Linked DNA regions of Homo sapiens. The protein of the gene in region 1 purifies or fractionates together with the protein of each later gene. This does not show direct contact. Each region holds a gene or a part of one and is shown on either strand. Other genes may lie near its edges.

What was found. The genes of interacting proteins can lie anywhere in the genome.
Region 2: the proteins of SMARCB1 (region 1) and HDAC2 purify together in Homo sapiens (affinity purification with mass spectrometry; 5 studies listed by BioGRID and IntAct, with this or other methods). This does not show direct contact.
Region 3: the proteins of SMARCB1 (region 1) and BCL7B purify together in Homo sapiens (affinity purification with mass spectrometry; 6 studies listed by BioGRID and IntAct, with this or other methods). This does not show direct contact.

What each region holds. Positions count from the first base shown.
Region 1 is NC_000022.11:23,831,966-23,838,533, reverse strand, and holds the end of SMARCB1 (SWI/SNF-related matrix-associated actin-dependent regulator of chromatin subfamily B member 1), read right to left. Parts: intron 4,963-6,568; coding exon 4,831-4,962; intron 4,394-4,830; coding exon 4,354-4,393; 3' UTR 3,708-4,353; coding exon of another isoform or gene 3,555-3,707; 3' UTR 1,666-3,554; coding exon of another isoform or gene 1,572-1,665; 3' UTR 1,475-1,571; coding exon of another isoform or gene 1,380-1,474; 3' UTR 876-1,379; coding exon of another isoform or gene 680-875; 3' UTR 525-679; downstream 1-524. Other genes in the region: DERL3 (derlin-3), read left to right, coding at 89-396, 803-875, 1,380-1,470, 3,555-3,707.
Region 2 is NC_000006.12:113,933,125-113,940,148, reverse strand, and holds part of HDAC2 (histone deacetylase 2), read left to right. Parts: 3' UTR 1-7,024. UniProt on the Homo sapiens protein: Histone deacetylase that catalyzes the deacetylation of lysine residues on the N-terminal part of the core histones (H2A, H2B, H3 and H4).
Region 3 is NC_000007.14:73,554,667-73,562,286, forward strand, and holds the start of BCL7B (B-cell CLL/lymphoma 7 protein family member B), read right to left. Parts: upstream 3,025-7,620; 5' UTR 2,913-3,024; coding exon 2,821-2,912; intron 2,571-2,820; exon of another isoform or gene 2,375-2,570; intron 1-2,374. UniProt on the Homo sapiens protein: Positive regulator of apoptosis. Plays a role in the Wnt signaling pathway, negatively regulating the expression of Wnt signaling components CTNNB1 and HMGA1.

The DNA of each region.
Region 1 (6,568 bases):
TGGAGGGCAGGCCGGCCGGGCTGGGAGAGAGGCCGGGACGGGGAAACTGAGGCCCCGCCTGGTGGCACTTCCTATACCGACGCCGTAGGTTCCGCTACTGCCGCATGCTGGAAGAGGGCTCCTTCCGCGGCCGCACGGCCGACTTCGTCTTCATGTTTCTCTTCGGGGGCGTCCTTATGACCGTATCCTTCCCGCAGGCTCTGGAACCTCGGGCTAGGGCGCCTCGGCGTCCAGCCTGTGTTGGTCCTGGGGCCAACACAGCCATGCCAGAGAGGGACACAGTCGCTGTCTCCAGCTTAGTATGTGTTGAGGGCCCACTCTGTGCTCAGCTGCAGGGGTCAGGGCTAGATCTTCAGTGCTGTATGCAAAATACAAAGCCATGCACAAAAGAGCCAGGTGGGTTGTCAGGGCCACTAGCTGAGCCCTGAATGCGAGTAGCCGGGAGAAACTGGGGCAGGGACAGGCAGTGGTTGGGCCCTGGGATGAGGCTGTAGGTGTGCAGGGCAGATTTCGTGGGACCTGAAGCCCGTGGAGTGTGTCGCCTTTATTGGACTGGCTCATCTTGATGAGGGAATAGCACATAGGGGAGATGAGGGGAAGAATTCCAGGGTCTTGGGAAGTCAGAGGGGCCCTGGGCTTGGGCTGAGGCCTGCACCGGAGCACCTTGACTCTGGCCCAGCTGCTGGGACTCCTGGGCAGCCTGTTCTTCCTGGGCCAGGCCCTCATGGCCATGCTGGTGTACGTGTGGAGCCGCCGCAGCCCTCGGGTGAGGGTCAACTTCTTCGGCCTGCTCACTTTCCAGGCACCGTTCCTGCCTTGGGCGCTCATGGGCTTCTCGCTGCTGCTGGGCAACTCCATCCTCGTGGACCTGCTGGGTGAGCCTCCCGGTACATCTAGTCCGCCCCAGGCTGGCCACTCCCCTCAGGACACGCTGCTTATGCCCTGGGGCCCCTCTCCCATCCTTGCTGGAGTTCTCCTCACACCTGGCTCCATCCCCATCTTCCTGCCCTCCCAGCTGCTGTGCTCTTACAGCCCCTCAAGCCAGCCGGCCCACATAATTTGCATCGTCAGGACGGATCTACTGATGCTTGCACGGTCCTGATGGGAGTGAGGATGGGAGGGTCAGGGTTCCTGCCCCATGGCTCCCACTCCTCCACTATTCTCAGGCCCTCCCCTCCCTGGGTCCTGCCTGCTTCTGGGCCTTTTAAGCTTGTCCTTCACGGCCAACCCGGGGCTGGCACTCTGTGCAAGGCTTTGGGGCACTCATGCTGTGGGGCCTGCAGGGCCACCAGGCTGTGGATGGGGGCCTGGGGCAGGCTCTGCTGGTCTAGGACTCTGGGCTGTGGAGGGTGACCCCACAGTCCGTGGCTGTCTCACAGGGATTGCGGTGGGCCATATCTACTACTTCCTGGAGGACGTCTTCCCCAACCAGCCTGGAGGCAAGAGGCTCCTGCAGACCCCTGGCTTCCTGTGAGTGTTGAGAGCCCTCCCTCCCTCTCCCCACCCTCAGAAGGATCCCCACCGATGGGGACCTGTGCTGGCCTGTGCTCAACACGGGCCCCTCCCCACAGAAAGCTGCTCCTGGATGCCCCTGCAGAAGACCCCAATTACCTGCCCCTCCCTGAGGAACAGCCAGGACCCCATCTGCCACCCCCGCAGCAGTGACCCCCACCCAGGGCCAGGCCTAAGAGGCTTCTGGCAGCTTCCATCCTACCCATGACCCCTACTTGGGGCAGAAAAAACCCATCCTAAAGGCTGGGCCCATGCAAGGGCCCACCTGAATAAACAGAATGAGCTGCAGTCTCTTGGCCCACAGCACTGGCTTCCCCATCTCACCTGGCCACATCCTTCTATGCCTGCCCCGTCCTCACTCAGTGTGGCCTCTCAGCCCAACTGCAGGTGGTAGGATAGGGGTGCCCACAGAGGGCAAAGAAACTGCCCATGGTTGCCTGGCAGAGCTTTGAGCTCACAGGTTGCCAGGCAGAGCTTTTGAGCTCACAGGTGACAGGCTCAGGGTTCTCATCCTGGCCCCACCAGGGCCTTGGGCAAGTCCTGCCCACCATAGGCCTCTGCTACCTGCCAGTCAGCGGGGAAGTTCACCAGATTTCGGCTGCTGGGGCCAGGACAGGCGTCTCCTAGGTTGTGCCAAACCAGCCTACAGATGTTCCTGCCAGTGGTGCCTTCAGGCTGATGCCAATCTAGCCTCTCCTGTCTCTCATCAGCCACCCTGACAGGTGGGCGTATGCCTCATTTTTCATCTGGTGATGCCAAAGCCCCATGGATTCAGGTGCAGAAGAGGGCCAGGACTAGGTCTTCTGCCCTTTCTATGACCTCAGAGCCTAAGTTTTCACCTTAGCAGAGTTCTGAGACTGGGTGAGGCAGGGACTTCTGGAAGGTTCTGTTCCTGCCCTTTTTAGCTGAGGACGTGTGTGAGCCTTATCCGACCCCTGTGGCTCATTTTTCTCTTCTGACCTGGCAGCTTTCCTTGTTGTTCTAAGCCTGTCCATGTTGTGGTTTATTTCTGGATGCTCAGTGGCACGGGGCCTCCTCCAAAGACAGGTTGTCATTTTCATGGTAACAACACTGTTCTCTGTTGAGTCTGCCCTCCGTGTTGTAGCCAGACCTTGTGGAGATGGCTTTGCGGCGGTGTGAGCTGGCGGTCAGGAGTGAGGGCCCAGCCTTCCCGGCACCTCCCAGCCAGGTGGCCCTGCCCGACCTGTGGGGTGAGGCAGCCAAGGTTCCTTCCATCCCCCCAGTTGTGGAGACACAGGGCTGCCTCACCCTTTCATTGCCGAGGTTCCTACCTCATGGACAGAACAAACACCTCAGCAATGAAACCTGTTCATGTCTAAGAGCAGCTGGGCTGGGAATCTTCCCCTTTGTTCAAGGCCTTCCAGTAAGGCCCAGCTGTCCCCTTGCTGTGCATGGGGCTCTGGGGAGTTCCACTCTTTGATGGAGGGCAGAGGCCCTGAGTGCAAACTCCCTGGGAAGAGTCCCATGCTAACATGTGCTCAAAGGAGCCCTCCTCTCACATCTCAGCGACCAAGAACCCCAATCCCTAATCAGAGCTCTGCCTCTGCCCCACATGGGGCCCTACCCCACTTCCAGGGAGCACAGCAGCCTCTGACCCTAGCCCTGCCCTGGCAGCATGGGACCTGCCAACAGCTGAGGGTGGCAGCAGTCTGTGCTGGGATCTGTGCCCGGATCTGTGCCCATTCTCTTCAGTAAGGCTGGAGCTGCGAGCCAGTTTGCTGCCCTCCCAGATCCTGTGTCCATTCTGAAGAATGGGGACACCTCCCTATTACAGATGAGAACAGAGGGGACATGAACTCCTTGGAGGCAGGGCTGGGAAGGGACCCTGGGCTGTGTCTCCTCCCTGTACCGTGTCAACTCCAAGAGCTGGCACCAGGCCGGGAGGGCTATTCCCATATTCCTCACAGCTGGCTTGTAAGGCAGGAGCTGGCCCAGGCCACAGCACCTGCTGGGGTGGGAAAGGGCCCCAGCTGACCTGGCTATGGGTGCCACTGGAGCTAGAACAGCCCTCCTGCACCCAGGCTGGCGACAGCCCAGCAGTGCCCACACAGGACTGGGCCCTCCGCAGGGGACTTCAGAGCAGCAAGGCCCCAGCTGGCAGTAGCCTGACCATCTGGACACAGCAGAGCCAGGGCGGCCCAGGGACGGCAGGAGAGCTCGCGGCACCTTCCTGAGGCCAAGCAAGGGGAGCAGGGTTAGGGCTGTTCCTGAAAGGCAGAGAGCCTCTTGCCCTGAGCCTCACAGCTACTCTTCTCAGCTCTCTGGGTCTGGAAGGAGAACAGGCTGAGGGGAGCTGAGAGGAGCTGAGGTGCTACCCGGAGCCCCATTCACCCCCACCTGCCCACTTGGGAATCTGAGGCAGAGGAGGGTGAGGCCTGTGTGCCAACCTTGTTCACATACCACCTTCGTCCCCCCAGGCCCCGGCCCCACTCCTGGCTCTCATTATTTTTATGTTAAAACTTTGAAGAAATTGAACATGACCTGTTGAAGAAATTGAACATGACCTGTTGCCTTTTATTTAAAAACTGTTACTAGCCCTGCCTGGGGCTCCTATACAAAAACAAAACACAACCTAAAATAAGGTTTCTTCCTGACCCCAGAGACTGGGGAGGGGTAGGGAGGGTGGGGTGGGGGGCAGGACTGGGGCTCAACAAATGGAATGTGTGCCGGGAAGGGCCACCTGGAAGCCCCCACTCCACCCCCACCCGATCCTCAGGATGGCGCTGGGCTGTCCCCTCGCCTCTGTCCTTGCCAGAAGATGGAGGAGAGGCGGCCCAATCTTCTGAGATGCTCCGTGGGAGCCGTGTGCTGATGGGCTGGTTACCAGGCCGGGGCCGTGTTGGCAAGACGCCTCATCCGCCTGGAAGAGGAGTGGGGAGGGCAATGAGTCGGGGCCAGCTCCCAGCCTGGGCGCTGCCCTTCCCAAGGCTCTACAGGGCAGCCAAGTGTAGGGGTGGGAACAGAGGCAGGATGTGGGCCCCCAGCAGGGTCAGACCCAGCCTTCTCTCAGCCTCGCCTGTCTGCCACTCAGGCCCTGCTCATCACTCCAGGGACCCCAAAACCTGGATCTGGGCTGTGGTCAGACCCTCAGCCTGAGGAATTATGTTTGTTCCATGCAGGGAAACATACCCTGGCGTTTGGATGGGGCCTTATCACCCAGAAGCCTGCCTGCCTCTAGCAGCACTAGAGGTACTCTGTCTCAGAGACCATGGGAGACTGGGAAAGGCAATGGCCCTGCCTCTGCCTGGAAAGCCAGGTGCCTGTGGGCAGAGCCCAGGACCACAGGGCCAGGGGTACCTCGTGTTCCTGTCCTGGTCGCGGATCTTCTTCTCCATCTCAGCGTCTGTCAGAGTCTCCAGCAGTGGGCACCACTGGTCCGCATCGCCCGTGTTCCGGATGGCAATCTCCACTGTGGGCAGAGGGTTCTCGCTACGAGGAGGGGAGGCAGTGAGAGGAATGACTTTTCCAGCTATAGATGGAGAATCCTCAGAAAGCTTTGGCCCCTGTCTGTGCCCTGCTCCTCCCAGCAGCACTGCTGGCACCCAGTGGATGCTCCAGTCACCTGAACCTCAAGGGAGCTGCTGGAGGCGCCAGGGCCTTTCCATAACAAGTGTTGTCGCCATGACCCCATGGGCTTCCCTTCAAAGTGAACTTTCAACAGGGCTTTTGTGCCCAGCGTCTCTCTGTCTCTGAGATGGAGGAAGGGGCCACTGGCTGTGGAGGTGGTCCTTGACAGGACAGCACGGGCTGGACCATGCTGATGCCACAGTGCCAGTCAGGAGGTGGAACCTATAGGGGCAGGAGGACTGTCTGCTCCACTCAGTGTCCAGAGCCAGGGCCCACTGATCAGGGAAAGGGGATGGATGGCGAATGGGAGCAAAGGAGTCTCCCAGAAGTCCCCAGCCCCCCACTACTGAGGGCCACTGCACAGCCTGTTCCTGCATGTTCCACACACTTGCCCCTCAGCCCACCTCCTGGCCGAACAAAACCCCCGAGAGGCTGGTCTGTGCTTAGGATCAGACAGCTGTCTGGCAGGGAGCTGGACAGAAGCCGTATCCCCGGACCACACTCTGCCCTGGGTCTCACAAGGACCACCCAAATCTGCCCCGAGGTACCTTCCTCTTGCCAAAAGGACACAGCAGAGGAAGGGGGCAGCAAGGGCAGAGGCTAAACAGGCATGGGGTGGGCACAGGAGTGCTGGGGAGGTGGGAGGGTGGCTGGCTGCCGCCTCTCTGGGCTTTGATTTGCAAGTCTGTGACAGGACACTAAGGAGACCACAGCTGTGGATGCCACAGGGCCCGTGTGCCTCCCACATGCAGTGGTCCCGTCACCCCCACCTCTGAGAGCAGCTTTGGGTGCTGACAGTGTTTCCCAGTTGAGTGACACCAGACCCCTGGCTTGGCAGAAGGCCTCAGCCTGAGGTCCTAACCATGACTCTCCCACTTCCCCTCCCCTCTCTGTGGTCCTTTCCTTTCTCCTCCACTTGGGCACCTCCACTTGGCTCTCCCTAGGCTCAGTCCCCTGGGAGAAGGACACCCTGCCAGCCTGCGGCCCTGAAAAACACCATGAGCTCTGGGAGAAGCAAGGGCAGGCCGGACTCGGGGGAGGCGCCAGGTGGACACTGATAGAGAGGACAGGTCCCTGCAAACCTCATCTGGAATATGGAAACATTTATTGCTGTGAAGGGCTTTGGAAGGATGACTGTTATTAAAGCAGCCAAAACATCTCCACTGAGGGAGCTTCCTAGGGGCCAGGGACCTTCTCACAGCCTCCCTGTAGTGGGTGGCTCAAGGTTGTGGGACCAGCCTGCTTGCAGAGCGAGTCCCGGCTCTGCACATCCACACCAGTGAGCACACACCCAGCTCCAGTAGCCGTGAGCCCGTTCCAGGTTGGGCTCAGTGCTGCTCTCCTCAGCCTGGGGTCTCAGGGACTGTGGGCACAGCGCAGGGCACTGGCTGCAGCTGGCTCTCCCTGCAGCAGGCCTGACCCCTCACAGCTGAAGCTCAGCCCACCAGGTCCATGCTCATGAGTCGCA
Region 2 (7,024 bases), on another chromosome or scaffold:
GTAACTGAATATAATGGAAAAATGCTTTCACTCAGAGCTTACACTCAGAGCTTACATTCTAGTAGCAGGAAGCAGACAAATGGGGGTAACTCCTGCTACTAAGATGTGCAAAGAAGACAAAACATTTTAGGAACTTGCCAAAATCAGTGAAATCTCCCTTTTTGTCAGGCCCACATTGATTCTTTTGAGATTAAAAATTACAGAATGCCAGAAGATAATTCAGTCAAAAGTATTTCTCTTCAGTGCAGTAAAATATTAAAAGAAAAAATATTTCTCTACAAGCCTCTTAAATGTTTCAGACATTCACAATAGCACCTAGACTTTTGTAATGAACAGCTGTGCACCCACCCCGACTTAACAAATATTTTACTTTTGCTATATTTGCTTCGGTGTTTTTTTCTTAAAATACACCGAAATTGAAGCTCTCTTTGTGTACTTTGTCGTTTGTAATCCTCCCTCCCTCCCAGCCTTAAGAAGTAATCACCATTGTGATTATTTTATCCATGTTTTTGTGAATATTTTACCCATGTTTTTGTACTTTTGCTACATATTTGTTATCAATCTGTAAACCTTTATGACATTAGGAACTAAGAAACTTAGTCCCTTCGTTAGGGGGATAATGAAATGTATTTAGTGTTTGTGAAACATAGATGGTATGTATTTGGACAATTCTGTAACTTTGCTTTTTTTATTTTTATTTTTCCATAGCTTATTGGGGAACAGGTGGTGTTTGGTTACATGATTAAGTTCTTTAGTGGTGATTTGTGGGATTTTGGTGGACCCATCACCCAAGCAGTGTACACTGCACCCTATTTGTAATCTTTTATCCCTCGCCCCCCTCCCACCATGCCTCCCGTCTACCATGATGATCCTGTTTTAAATAAGAAAATACCATTTCGCAGGCTCCAGATGTTCTGGCATCCTCCCTGTGGATTTCCCAGTGCCTGCAGCTCACAGGACAACAGGGGCTGTGGTAGAGTCACCTATGAGATCCTGGAGTAGTGGATGGAGGAGATGGAACAGTGAAGACGGAAACTGAGCTCAGTATCCGGGTGCCAGGAGACAAAGGCCCTTTGCTTTTTTTCATTTAATATTCTGATCTACCCCTGTTGACACATGTTAAGTATAGTTCATTTTGACTGCTATGTATTATGTTCCATTGTGTGAACATACTGAAATTGTACACTTCAATACTATACTGGATCTCCTTGGGTGTATTTAAGAGGTTTTGTTTTTCTAAGTAGTTGGTTATATACAACTAAAACCTCAAGAGAACTATCTAAAGCAATTTCAGCAAGGTGATTTGGTACAGCATTAATAAACAGAAATCAGTAACACTTAGTGACCAAGTCTGTTGGAAGAACAAAGACCCCCATTTGTAATAACAAAATTTTTAGAAATAATATGTAAAGAAGCTATGGTTCTTGTGTCTAGTAAGGTCAATGTAACATAGTAAGATGTCAGAATACCCTAATACTTTAAAAAATTCATATAGGATAAAAATGATATTTGAAATTGGCAAGGAAAGACATTATTTTGTAAGTGGAATTGGGACAACAACTGGTAACCAAATGGAAAACCCAGTTTTCTGCCCTCCACTAGAAGATTTAAATAGGAAAAGATAAAACTACCAAAAACCTAAACTCTTAAAGCAAATGGATTGAAGAAGGCCTAAGTGTGACACCAAACTCAACTATAAAAGATATATTTGATAACAAAAAAAAAATTAGTTCAGTGGACCAACAAAAACTTAGAAGACAAGTCAAGAAAAATGACAAAAGACAGAGTGGGAGGCAGATTTGTAACTCATCCAGGTCAAAAGGCTCATATCTAAAGATAGTAGAGGAACAAAATGTATAAGGATGTGAACTGGGAAACAAATACATATAAATAGTTTGTAAATATGAAAAGATCTTTAACCTCAGTAAATAAAAAGCTATAGAGAGACTTATTTTTTAACTTAGTTTTTTAAACCTATTATGTTTATTTATTTTTTCTTTTTTTGAGACGGAGTCTCGCTGTTGCCCAGGCTGGTGTGCAATGGCGCAATCTCGGCTCACTGCAACCTCCGCCTCCCAGGTTGAAGCCATTCTCCTGCCTCAGCCTCCTGAGTAGCTGGGATTACAGGCGCCTGTCACCACGCCCAGCTAATTGTTCGCATTTTTAGTAGAGACGGGGTTTCACTATGTTGGCCAGGCTGGCCTCGAACTCCTGACCTCATGATCCACCCACCTTGGCCTTCCAAAGTGCTGGGATTACAGGTGTGAGCTGCCGCACCTGGCTGTTTATCTCTTTTTTTTAGAGAAAGGATCTCGGTCACCCAGGATGGAGTGTGGTAGCCTGATCATATCTCACTACATCTTAGAACTTCTAGGCTTAGGGTATTCTCCCACCTCAGCCTCCCAAGTAGCTGGGACTACAAGTGTGCACCATCACACCTAGCTGATTTTTACATTTTTATTTTGGAGAGATGGTGTCTCCCTGTGTTGCCCAGGCTGGTCACAAACTCCTAGGCTCAAGCGATTCTCCTGACTCAGGCATGAGCCACCGTACCCGGCCTAAACCTATCATGTTACAGACTTAGAAAGCAACTATTGTCAAGTGTTTGAGGAAACTCAGGTCAGGTTTGGTAAACTAAGATATTAACTCAAGTAAAGCTCTTTAATTCATTTAATGAAGGTGCCACATTGTCTCAGTTCTCTATGGCATGGGTGAATGCTGTTCTAAGTCAGCATTGGTACTCTAAGCTAGTTACATCATATCTAAGCTTTGCCCTTCTACCAGAGCTGCTAGCATTCTGTCAATGGGCAATTATTTGAAGTTCTTACATTGAAGTTAGTCACCTACATCTTCTGTTTTTTATGGTTTTGATGTAGTAATACTGCTGAAGTTTTTTTGATAACTGCGATTCATAATATTTGTTATTCATATTGTGATATAAATGATAAGGGCTTTTGAAAACAAGTAGTAATCATTTCAATAGCTTAGGATCTCCACCATAATCTTAGGAAAATTACTAACCTCTGTGCCTCAGTTGCTTCATCATTTAAAATGAGGAAAATAATAGTCCCTACTTAATAGGTTTGTTGTGAGGATTGAGTTAATAACATAGTTAATGCTCAGTAAGGGTTAGCTGCTATTTTTTTTTCTTTTTTTTTTGAAAGAGTCTCACTCTGTTGCCCAGGTTGGAGTGCAGTGGCATGATCTTGGCTCACTGCATCCTCTGCTTCCTAGGTTCAGGTGATTCTCATGCTTCAGCCTCCCAAGCAGCTGGGAGTACAGGTGTGCACCACCACACCTGGCTAATTTTTGTATATTTAGTAGAGACGGGTTCTCACCATATTGTCCAGGCTGGTCTTGAACTCCTTACCTCAAATGATCCACCCGCCTGGGCCTCCCAAAGTGCTGGGATTACAAGCATGAGCCACCGCGCCTGGCTTGCTATTGTTATGAGGTAAAGGTAGATAGATGGGTGAGAGTGGTGCCAGGGGAAGTGTTAAATTTTTGAGTGTTCCTTTAGATGCCAGATGGGTTGTATCTGAGCCTTTTATTGCAGTTTGATGCCTACTAGTGTGAAGACTACTAGGTCATAGTGGATAGAGAAGCAATCTTTTGGAGACCTGATTTTAGCAAGGATACGAATAATATTTGACAACTTTGGGGGGATCTTGATGCCTCTGTAATTTACTCAAGGATAATCTCAAGAAAAATGGCATTAAGTAGATTACAGAAAAAATAGAACTATCATATTGTTATTATTGGCTATTTACATGAGCAATGCGGAGAAATGTTTAGGATTACAGCATTTAGAAGCTTCTCAATTGCTGCATTTCCTCACTGTACCACAAGATGGCAGATACTGCATTTAAAATTTTTTTTTCTGTGTGTTTTCTCTTATAGTCACTTGGTGGCCATGTAACAAGCAGAGCAACATGTATTAACAGATTCTTTTTGAATGCAATATTGGATTAAAAACTTTGAATTAAACTACAATTAAGTTTACTGATTTAGGTTTTCCTATAAGAATTATAACACTAATTTCTAAGTTTTACATCTGCAAAACACAGTAGAGTGTATCTGGTAGTCATTGACTAATTGTGACTTTGCTAGTCAGACAAAATGGAACTGAATATTAGAGCCAGAATAATTTTCTGTTTTGACTGGTGGTAAGAATCAGTTAGTATACAGAATGGGAAAGAATTGAAATTTATTTCTAGGAATTATAGTTATAGTGAAGTTAATATTCAGGGGCATTGGGTGCTTGTTCCACGACTTTTGTTTACTGAACTAAGTACCTAACCCCTTTGGTCTTTGAACACTGCAGAGTTATGATTAGGATTATTAATGAAAAATTCTTTTTTAGTAGAACAAACAGTTAAGGACAGAAGACACCTTGATTAGATTCTGTTATTTGCTCTTTTTATTAAGATTGTTTTTACTCTAAATGTTAAAGAAATGTATAATTATTTCTAAGGTAAAATGAGTAGCAGGATTCTGAATAGGAGATTTTTTTTGGCCAGACCCATTTTGCAGCCAGTGGTTTGTATTTAGGAGTGAGTTGAACAAAGAAGACTCTAATCTGTTTTTGTGTTGTGGATTTTTTATTCTATTGATAAATCAGTAGCTTCCAGCTTCTCTTGTATCCTCTACTAGTCATCTTTTTTGTTTCTTCAGAAATAAACATCCAGGGTCACTTCCCTGCCCTTGCCATATACTTACTAGGATGATGTACAGGTAAAACTTTTAAAGGAAAGTACGGACAGGCAATTCCTAAAGTAAAAGAGAGCACATTATCAAAACTGGCTGTACTTAACAAATACCAACAAAAAGTCATTACACTTCTGGCAACAAATAATGTTTGATTTAAAAAGACAAGAATTTCCCCTTTTGCTCTTATTTTTTAAATATGCTATGTCCTTAAGTGAGAAATGCACTTCAAAAATTTTCTTATTCTGAAGTCTAGCCGGAAAGTTTGAACTTGTGTTGCCTTTGGCTAGACTAGGTGAAATTAAGGGGCTTAAGAGGGCACTGTTGTGTGGCCCTGTGGTAGATAATAGCCCTCCAAGCATGAGGATGGGAGATCTACCATTCACCAGTATTTCCAAAGTTATATTCTTAAAAAGGCTAGATTTCTAATTTCCGTAGAATCTAGGTATGTTCTTTTCAACTCAGCATCTGATAAGAAAGTTTGGGCAAGTAGGTGCGAAAAATTTACTCTAGATACCATTTTCCAGGAAAAAATATAATTCAAGTCCAACGTATTACTAGCTGTCACCTTCCCCAACAATCAAATAAGCATTGTTATTGTCAAACACATTTACTTGTATAGTTCAGTGTTATATGTAATGGACTTAGGTATAATTCCTGTGCTATTCCCTTTTGATGCCAAACACCCTTTTGTAAGCTGTTTTGTTTGAAATCCAAATTTATATGTCTTAAAGTAAATGGCAGCATTGGGCTTTCTTAATGTAATGACTCTTCTGCCATCCTATTTCTAGAGTTAGGCAGAAAATTCTGTAAATCTATCTTATTTCCAGTCTGTTTGTGACTATGGTGGGCAATAAATCTGATTTCCCAGAAAAACACATCTGGACCCCTATAGGTAAGGTAAACAAGCCTCATCTTAAATTGTTTGTACTTCCGACCTGACCTCAAAACACCATCATCATCTAGAGCAGCAACAAGTAAAGAACAATGCACTGGAAATCACATATATGGGTCTAGCACCAGCCTTTACATTACACAACTTTGCTTTGGGCAAGTCATTTAAATTTCTGTGCTTCAGTTTACTAAATCTATGAAACTGACTAGGTAACAGCTGACATGCTTTTCCAGCACTCCGTCTTTTACCTGTCTGATGTCACAAATTGATCATTCCTTTCTGGCCTTGAGATGCGTATCAACCCAGATAGTCATTAACCCAGATAGTTGGCATTCAGGATAAAATGTTTTTGCCTTTCCTGTCCTGCAAGCTCTTTAAAGTCCAAAATATGCCTTTATATCTTTATGTGTAATAGGTATGAAATCTATTTCTTGGTTGTTGAATAGGATAGGCTTATTAGACATTCTAAAGTCAACTTTTTTCTCATATTTAAACATTTACCCGTAGAAATTCAGTTTTTTAAAGTTTTAAGTCAGTTGATTGTACCAAACATTACTATTAAAAAAAAATCAAAGTCAGAGACCAGAGTTTCCCTGCATCAGCGTTCAGTCAGGAGACAGGAACTATACTAATTTGAACATGTAAAGTTAAATATAATCCTTAATAATAACAGGATTGGAATAAGGGATAAAAGAAAGAGAATTCCTTCTATATATATGTATACACACACATATATATATATACATGTGTATATATGTGTGTGTATGTATATTATATAATATACATACACACACACAAAGAATGTCAGACAAGGAGCAGCCACCATTCTGCTTACTTTCACTGGATTAAGAGTTTCATAAGGGCAAGGGTTTTGTTTGTCTTACACTCCACTGGGGATTAATCTCCAGTGTCTAGAACAGTGCCTAACACATAAATAAAGCCTCAATTATTATTTGTGGAATGGAATGGAATTTGAGTGAAATGGAATGGGAATAGAATGGACTGGAATGGAAATAGAAGTGGGAAGGGGAATGGAAGGGGATAGAAGAGGATTGAAGAGGACAGAAGGAGATGGGATAAGATGGGATGGGATAGGATCGAATCTCAGGTCCAGGAGTCAGAATAACTGAATCCTATTCCAGTTCTGCCATCAACAAGTCCTGTGAAATTTGGAAAGTCACTTAACCCTCTGGCCTTGTAGAATATCTCAGTGGGCATGTCTGATGTTTCTTCATGGTTAGATATAGGTTGCATGTTTTGGGCAAGAATATCACAGGAATGATGCTGTGTTCTCAGTGCACCCAGTCAGGTAATGCATGATTTCAATTTCTCTCATTACTGATGATGTTAACTTTAATCACTTAGTGAATGAGAACATGAGCATCATTTTGAAAGCAAACTGCAAAGTTTTGATGTCAACAT
Region 3 (7,620 bases), on another chromosome or scaffold:
GCACACCTGTAGTCCCGACTACTCAGGAGGCTGAGGCGGAAGAACTGCTTGAACCCCAGAGGCGGACACTGCAGTGAGCCAAGACCACGCCACTGCACTCCAGCCTGGGTGACAGGCAAGACTGGGTCTCAAAAAAAAAAAAAAAAAACAGATGACATACTGGGAGTGTAAAGAGACTGTGATGTAACAGAAGGAGCGAATTAAAGTCTTAGAAAATAACTAAAATTAATTCCTGAACAGACCACTCCATTTTCTCATTTATTCAACCAATTAGTATACAACAGGCTGTGCTAGGCCCTGGTGATGCAGGGAACAAGATCCACAGTCCCTGCCCTCACAGACCCTGTCTTATATCTGGAAACAGACATGAATAGCTCAATTCAAGATTAGTCACTTAATCATCAGGTTCAACCATATCAAATTGCCATTTTTGTAGGTTAATTAGTCAAATACAGGAGGCCAGGCACAGTGGCTCACATCTGTAATTCCAGCACTTTGGGAGGTCATGGTGGGAGGACCACTTGGAATTCAGGAGTTCAAGACCAGCTTGGCCAACATGGTGAAACCCGGTCTCCACAAAAATACAAAAAATTAGCTGGGTGTGGTGGTGTACACTTATAATCAGCTACTCGGGAGGCTGAGGCAGAATTGCTTGAACCCGGGAAGCAGAGGTTGCCGTGAGCCAAGATCGCACCATTGCACTCCAACGTGGGTGACAGAGCAAGACTCTGTCTCAAAAAAAAAGAAATCAAATATAGGAAATGTCTTATGAGTCCATCTAATACAACTGTGGAAAGGTCTATGAAGGAGACTTGATCTAGATTGGGAATCTCAAGTGGTAAACCTAAGGAAGCAACTTTTGAGCTGAGCTAGGAGTTAACTCGGCAAGAGGGAGGAGAGGAGAGAGGAAGAAGAATGCCAGGCGGCAGGAAGAGCAGAGTGACTTCATTGGTAAGACAGCGGGCATCCTGGGAAAGAGCCAGCCAAGTGAGGCAGGAAGGAGGGCCTTCTTCAGTATTTATCCTAAAAGCAAGAAGGGAACCACTGAAGCATTACTAGGGGTGCTAGGATAAGATGCACATTTTATATATTTTTTTACAGATGGGGTCTCACTGTGTTGCCCAGGCTGGAGTGCCATGGCATGATCATAGTTCACTGCAGCCTCAACTCCTGGGCTCCAGCGATCCTCCCACCACAGCCTTCCAAATAAGGCTGTGCACTTTAAAAAGGTCACTCCGCTACTCGGAAGAGAGAAAAATAAAATCACTCAGTGCAAATGAACAGACTGGGGAATGAGCAAGAGCAGAAGCAGAGAGTTTACAGGGAGGCTGGTACAGAGTTCCAGGTGACAGGGGATGGCCCTTCAGCCTAGCCTGCTAGGGGCGGGGGGGTCAAAAATGGGGAGAAGAGAAAGGTGTACCTGTTCTTAGGTTTCACCAAAACCTCGGAGGATTAAAGGTGGACGAGGAAAACCATGAGTATGTTAAACTAATATTTATACTGAAACCCAACTATATATGAAGCCCTCAGACATAAAAAAGAGAAGGAACTTCCCTCTTGTGGGGAAATGGACAGATAAACACACAAATAAAGTCCAACGTACCAACGACCTTAAAGGAGGTAAAGGGATGGGAGGAGTTAAGGAAAGCTTCCTGGCGGGAGGTAACATCTACTTGAACTTTTATTTTCTGTAGAGACGGGGTCTCACTATGTTGCCCAGGCTGGTCTCAAACTCCTGGCCTCAAGCGATCCGCCCACCTCAGCCTCCCAAAGTGCTGGGATTACATGCCTGAGCCACCTCACCTAGCCAGACCTGGGTTTTTAAATTATTAGTAGTAATTGGCTATACAAAAGAGCTGACGAAGTTGGCTGTGAAAGTTTAATGTGATGACTCCGATACACACCGATATAGTATGTATCGGAGTTCCGGATACTAAACAGGGGCTCAATCGGCATCTTCCATGAACATTTTAGACACGGGGTCTCTCTCCGTAGCCCAGGCTGGAGTGCCGTGGCACGATCATAGCTCACTGCAGCCTCCAACTCCTGGGTCCCAGCAATCCTCCCACCACAGCCTCCCAAGTAAGGATGTGCACTTTAAAAAGACCACTCTGCTACTTGGAAGTGAGAAAAATAAAATCACACAGTGCAAATGATGAACGGACTGGGGAATGAACAAGAGCAGAAGCAGGGAAATTAGAGGGAGGCTGGTACATAGTTTGCAAAGGACTCTCCTGACAGCCGCCGGGGCAGCAAGAGAAAATGCCTACCAAGCTCGCGGCGCAGGGGCCGGTTACTGGGGGAAAGGGAGGGGTATCCCTCTGGATGACACCAGGCTTGCTCCCTTGACAGATGGACTAACCCAGAAACTCACCCAACTTCAACGCCTGAATACGCAGAGCGCTCAGCCTGGCGGGCTGACACCACTCCAGGGCTACTCGCTATTATCAAGAGGAAGCCTGGAAACGCAGGCGGGGCCACTGCCCAGGAAGAGGGGAGGGCGGGCCCCGGGCTGGGCCGGGCGCGGGCACCGACGCCAGGCAGCTCCAGTCCGGGCCGGAAGCCGGAATCCCCTCCCAGGCGGCGCGCGGCAGCAGCCGCAGCAGGTGGGCGGGCCCGCGAGCCGGGAGGACCGCTGATTGGCCGCGGCCGGCGCGCCCTCTGACCTCACGCCGACGCCAGCGGCGCCCTCCTCCCGCCTTCTCCCGCACCCCCCTCCCCCAGCGCCGGCCGGTCGGCTCCCACCTGACCCGCCAGTCCCACGCTCCTCAGGGCCTGGATCCGCGACCCCCGCCAGCCCCCTAAGCTCCGGCCCCTCACCATTTCCGCACTTTCTCGATGGCCGCCATCACCTTCTTGATGTCGTCCTTGGCCCGGCTGCGGGTCTCCGCCCGGACCGACCGGCCCGACATGGCGGCGGCGGGAGCGGCGGGGGCCGGGGCACTGCTCCCAAGACACCGGGGATCGCGCGCCTCACGCGCCGCCGCCCGCCCGCCGCCGCCGCAGCGTCACAGCGGCCGTCGCCCCCTCCGTGCGCGCGTGCGCGAGAAAGCGCGCGCACCCGCCCGCCCCTTGGGGCTCACGGCCTCAGCGCGCCTGCGCGCCCCGCCCGGGGCGTCCCTCCTGAGTGCCCCGGGAGTCCCCTGAGCCCCCTACCCGGGCCGGGGTGCGAGGCGGGTTGGGCGCACGTGCTTGTGGTCAGGGCGAGGTGCGAGGTGCCGCCGGTGGGCAACCTGGTTCTCTTCCCTGAGAGTTTGGAGGTCGGCTCCCTGCTCTGGCCAGCGTGTTAGGAACCTGACCCTGTGGAACCGCACTCCTGCGCCATCTCTGTCCTCCCGCCTCTCCTGCCCAGCACCTTTGCCCTCTGGCTCCTACGCTGTGCTCCAACCACGCCTTTCTTAAGGATGGCTTCCGGTCTTTGCACACACCTGTTCCTCACCTGGAATCCCCTCCTCTCTTTACCAGATGAACTGCTTTCCCAGCATTCAGACCACATTCTTGCCTTTTCTCGAGTATCTAGTAGTCCCAAGTATTTGGGAGGCTGAAGCGGGAGGATCACTTGACCCCAGGAATTTGAGGCTGCCGTCAGCTATGATATGATCGCACCTGTGAATAGCCACTGCACTCCAGCCTGGGCAACATATGGAGACCCCATGTCTAAACGAGACCCCGTCTCTAAAGTAAATAAATAAAAAGATGTCTATTTTGTGCAAGACTCTGTACCTAAAGCTGAAGACATACGTGGTTTTGGTTTCAAAGAGCTTCCAGTTTGTTTATTTATTGAGACGGAGTCTCGCTCTGTGACTCAGGCTGGAGTGCAGTGGTGTGATCTCCGCTCACTGCAACCTCCGCCTCCCGGGTTCAAGCGGTTCTTCTGCCTCAGCCTCCTGAGTAGCTGGGATTACAGGCGGGTGCCACCACGCCCAGCTAATTTTTGTAATTTTAGTAGAGACGGGGTTTTATCATGTTGGTCAGGCTGGTCTGGAACTCCTGACCTCGTGATCTGCCCGCCTTGGCCTCTCAAAGTGCTGGGATTACAGGCGTGAGCCACCACGCCTGGCCTTTTTTTTTTTGAGACGGAGTCTCGCTCTTTTGCCCAGGCTGGAGTACAGTGGTGTGATCTCGGCTCACTACAATCTCCGCCTCCCGGGTTCAAGCAATTTTCTGTCTCAGCCTTCCGAGTAGCTGGGATTATAGTCGTCCGCCATCACACCCAGCTAATTTTTTTATTTTTAGTGGAGATGGGGTTTCACCATGTTGGTCAGGCTGGTCTTGAACTCCTGACCTCGTGATCCACCTGCCTCGGCCTCCCAAAGTACTGGGATTACAGGCGTGAGCCACCGCACCCGGCCCAGTTTATTTATTCATGTGGAGAGGGGATCTCACTATGTTGTCCAGGCTGGTCTTGAACTCCTGGTCTCAAGGGATCCTCACAAAGTGCTGGGATTACAGGCATGAGCCACTGTGACTGGCTGAGCTTCCAGTTTAGTAGAACATTCAGACGAAAAAAAAATATTTATTTTTTACTTTTACTTATTTTTTGGTACAGGGCCTTGCTCAAGTGATCCTTCTGCCTCAGCCTCCTGTGTAGCTGAGACCACAGGCGAGGGCCACCATGCCTCGCTGACATTTTTTTTTTTTTTTTTTTGGTAGAGACAGGGTCTTCCTATGTTGCCCAGGTTGGTCTTGAACACCTGGACTCAATTGATCCTCCTTCCTCGGCCTCCCACAGTGCTGGGATTGCAGACGTGAGTCACTGGGTCCAGCTTCCCAAAGCATATTTAAAATGCTATTTGATAAATGCTAGCCTAGGCGGAGCATGGTGGCTCACGCCTGTAATCCCAGCACTTTGGGAGGCCAAGGTGGGTGGATCATTTGAGGTCAGGAGTTTGAGATCAGCCTGTCCAACGTGGCAAAACCCCATCTCTACTAAACATACAGAATTAGCTGCTTGGAAAGCTGAGGCAGGAGAATCGCTTGAACCCAGGAGGTGGAGGTTGCAGTGAGCCAAGATCGCACCATTGCACTCCAGCCCGGGCAACAAGAACAAAACTCCATCTTGGAAAAAATAAATTAATTAAACAAATAAGTAAAATGCTATTTGATAAATGCCAGCTTAAGTAGGGGAGGGGAGGTGTAAGATGCTATGGCTTTTATTCCTAGTCTGCAGCAAAGAAAAAAGAGGTGTTATGACAACCTTAATCTTGAAGCTGACCTCTAAAAATAGGGTAGGTGCTGTTACTCCCAGGGCAGTGTTCACAGATGCTACAGATGCTCAATAAATGTTTGCATGAATGTTGAATCCAGTGCAAGCTCTTGTCCTCTTTGCCCCCACCCAATTGCAGGCAGGTGTCACCCACGCTTGCAGTATGCGGAGAGGGTCCTGTAGCAGCTGTTTCAGGACACAGCTTGGGACAGAAAGCAGATTGGTAGTGGCTGTTCTCACCTATAAAGAAACTAATTTCCATGTGCTCCAGAGAAATGCCTAGCTAGCCCTGAACTTGAGACAGCCTCTGATTATGAGTCAGCCTTTCATGATCAAGCAACATAGGGCAAGCATATGTCATCTTACTGGCGAGGGGGCCAGAAATAGCTTCTGCCTGACTGAGGAGTGCAAAAGCTGAACCAGCATGTGGAGTGAAAAGATGATTCTAGAAATAACGGGATCAAAGGTGGCACATTTGTTGTTCAGACCCAGCCGATCCAAAATAACCGCAGATTGCCTAAGCACCTGCTGTACGCCCTAGCACAGTGGACACTGCAGGTGATGTGAAGTTGAGTAAGACACACTCCTTGTCCTTGGGGTGAAGGTGAGGAAAGCAGTAGAAAGGCAGAACATACGTGCCAAGAGAGAGGCCAGCCCTTGAGACTTCTCCAGTTCTGCCCATAGATCCCCCTGGTTGAGGCACACAGCCCCTGTGTCTGTCTCACCCTTGTCCAAATCCTCCCACGTGAGGTTTCTTGTCTGTAGCTTCCTTCTCGTCCACAGCCCAGCGCTCCTCCCAGCTGCACAGGTTCCCTGCACACATGTCTCCCCCAGCTCACCCAGCCAGTCGTCTTCCTGGGGCAAAGTCCCAGAGACCCCCCCAACCTTGTTTTCTCCCTACATTTGTCCACCTAGTCCTACATTCCCCACCTCATCTTCCACTGGGGCTCGGTCTGTGTAAGAGAGTGATCAAAGTGGGCACCTACCACCTATTCCTCATAGCCTACCCAAATGCTCTGTGTTGATACCCTTTTTTTTTCTTTTTCTTTCTTTTTTAGACAGAGTTTCGCTCTTGTCACCCAGGCTGGAGTGCAGTGGCGCAGTCTCGGCTCACCGCAACCTCCGCCTCCCTGGTTCAAGCCATTCTCCTGCCTCAGCCACCTGAGTAGCCGGGATTACAGGCATGCGCCACCACGCCTGGCTAATTTTGTATTTTTAGTAGAGACGGGGTTTCTCCATGTTGGTCAGGCTGGTCTCGAACTCCCGACCTCAGGTGATCCGCCTGCCTCGACTTCCCAAAATGCTGGGATTATAAGCATGAGCCACTGCGCCCAGCCTCTTTTCTTTTTTTCCCTTAAGACGGAGTTTTGCTTTTGTTTCCCAGGCTGGAGTGCAGTAGTGCGATCTTGGCTCACTGCAACCTCCGCCTCCTGGGTTCCAGTGATTCTCCTGCTTCAGCCTCCTGAGTAGCTGGGACTAGAGGTGCCCACCACCACACTCGGCTAATTTTTTGTGTTTTTAGTAGAAACGGAGTTTCACCATGTTGGCCAGGCTTGCCTCGAGCTCCTGACCTCAGGTGATATACCCACCTCGGCCTCCCAAAGTGCTGGGATTACAGGCGTGAGCCACCACACCCAGCCTGACACCATTTTCTTAAAATAATAATAATAATAATAATAATAATAATAATCAGGTCCGGCACGGTGGCTCACACCTGTAATCCCAGCACTTTGGGAGGCCGAGGCTGTTGGATCAGAAGGTCAGGAGTTCGAGACCAGCCTGGCCAATATGGTGAAACCCCGTCTCTACTAAAGACACAAAAAATTAGCTGGGTGTGGTGGCGCGCGCCTGTAATCCCAGCTACTAGGGAGGCTGAGGCAGGAGAATCACTTTAACCCAGGAGGCAGAGGTTGCAGTGAGCCGAGATTGTGCCACTGCACTCCAGCTTGGGTGACAGAGCGAGATTCTATCTCAAAAAGAAAAAAAAAATCACATCTTGTCATTTTCTAGGTGAAAGGCTTGTGCTAGATGAGATGCCGAGGTGGATACAGAGGAGCCACCCCAGATCTCTGCATTGGGCGACCTGCATTCAAGGGCTCAGCTTCCTTTCTCACTTTGAGTACAAGCTACAGCGGCTGACAAGGCCCCATCCATCCCCAGGCATCATCCTGTTAATTCTCTGACCTCACCTCCTACAACTCTACCCGTGCTGTCTCTGCTCCAAATCCACTGGCCTCCTTGCTCGTCTGAAAGCACAGTCCAGCTCCTGCTTCAAGTCTCTGCACTTCCGCTTCCTCTACTGCAGCACCCATCAACCATATATTTACATGGCTCCCTCCCTTACCTCCTTAAGGTCTTTATTCAAATGTTATCTTCTTGGCCAGGCACAGTGGCTCACGCCTGTAATCCCAGCA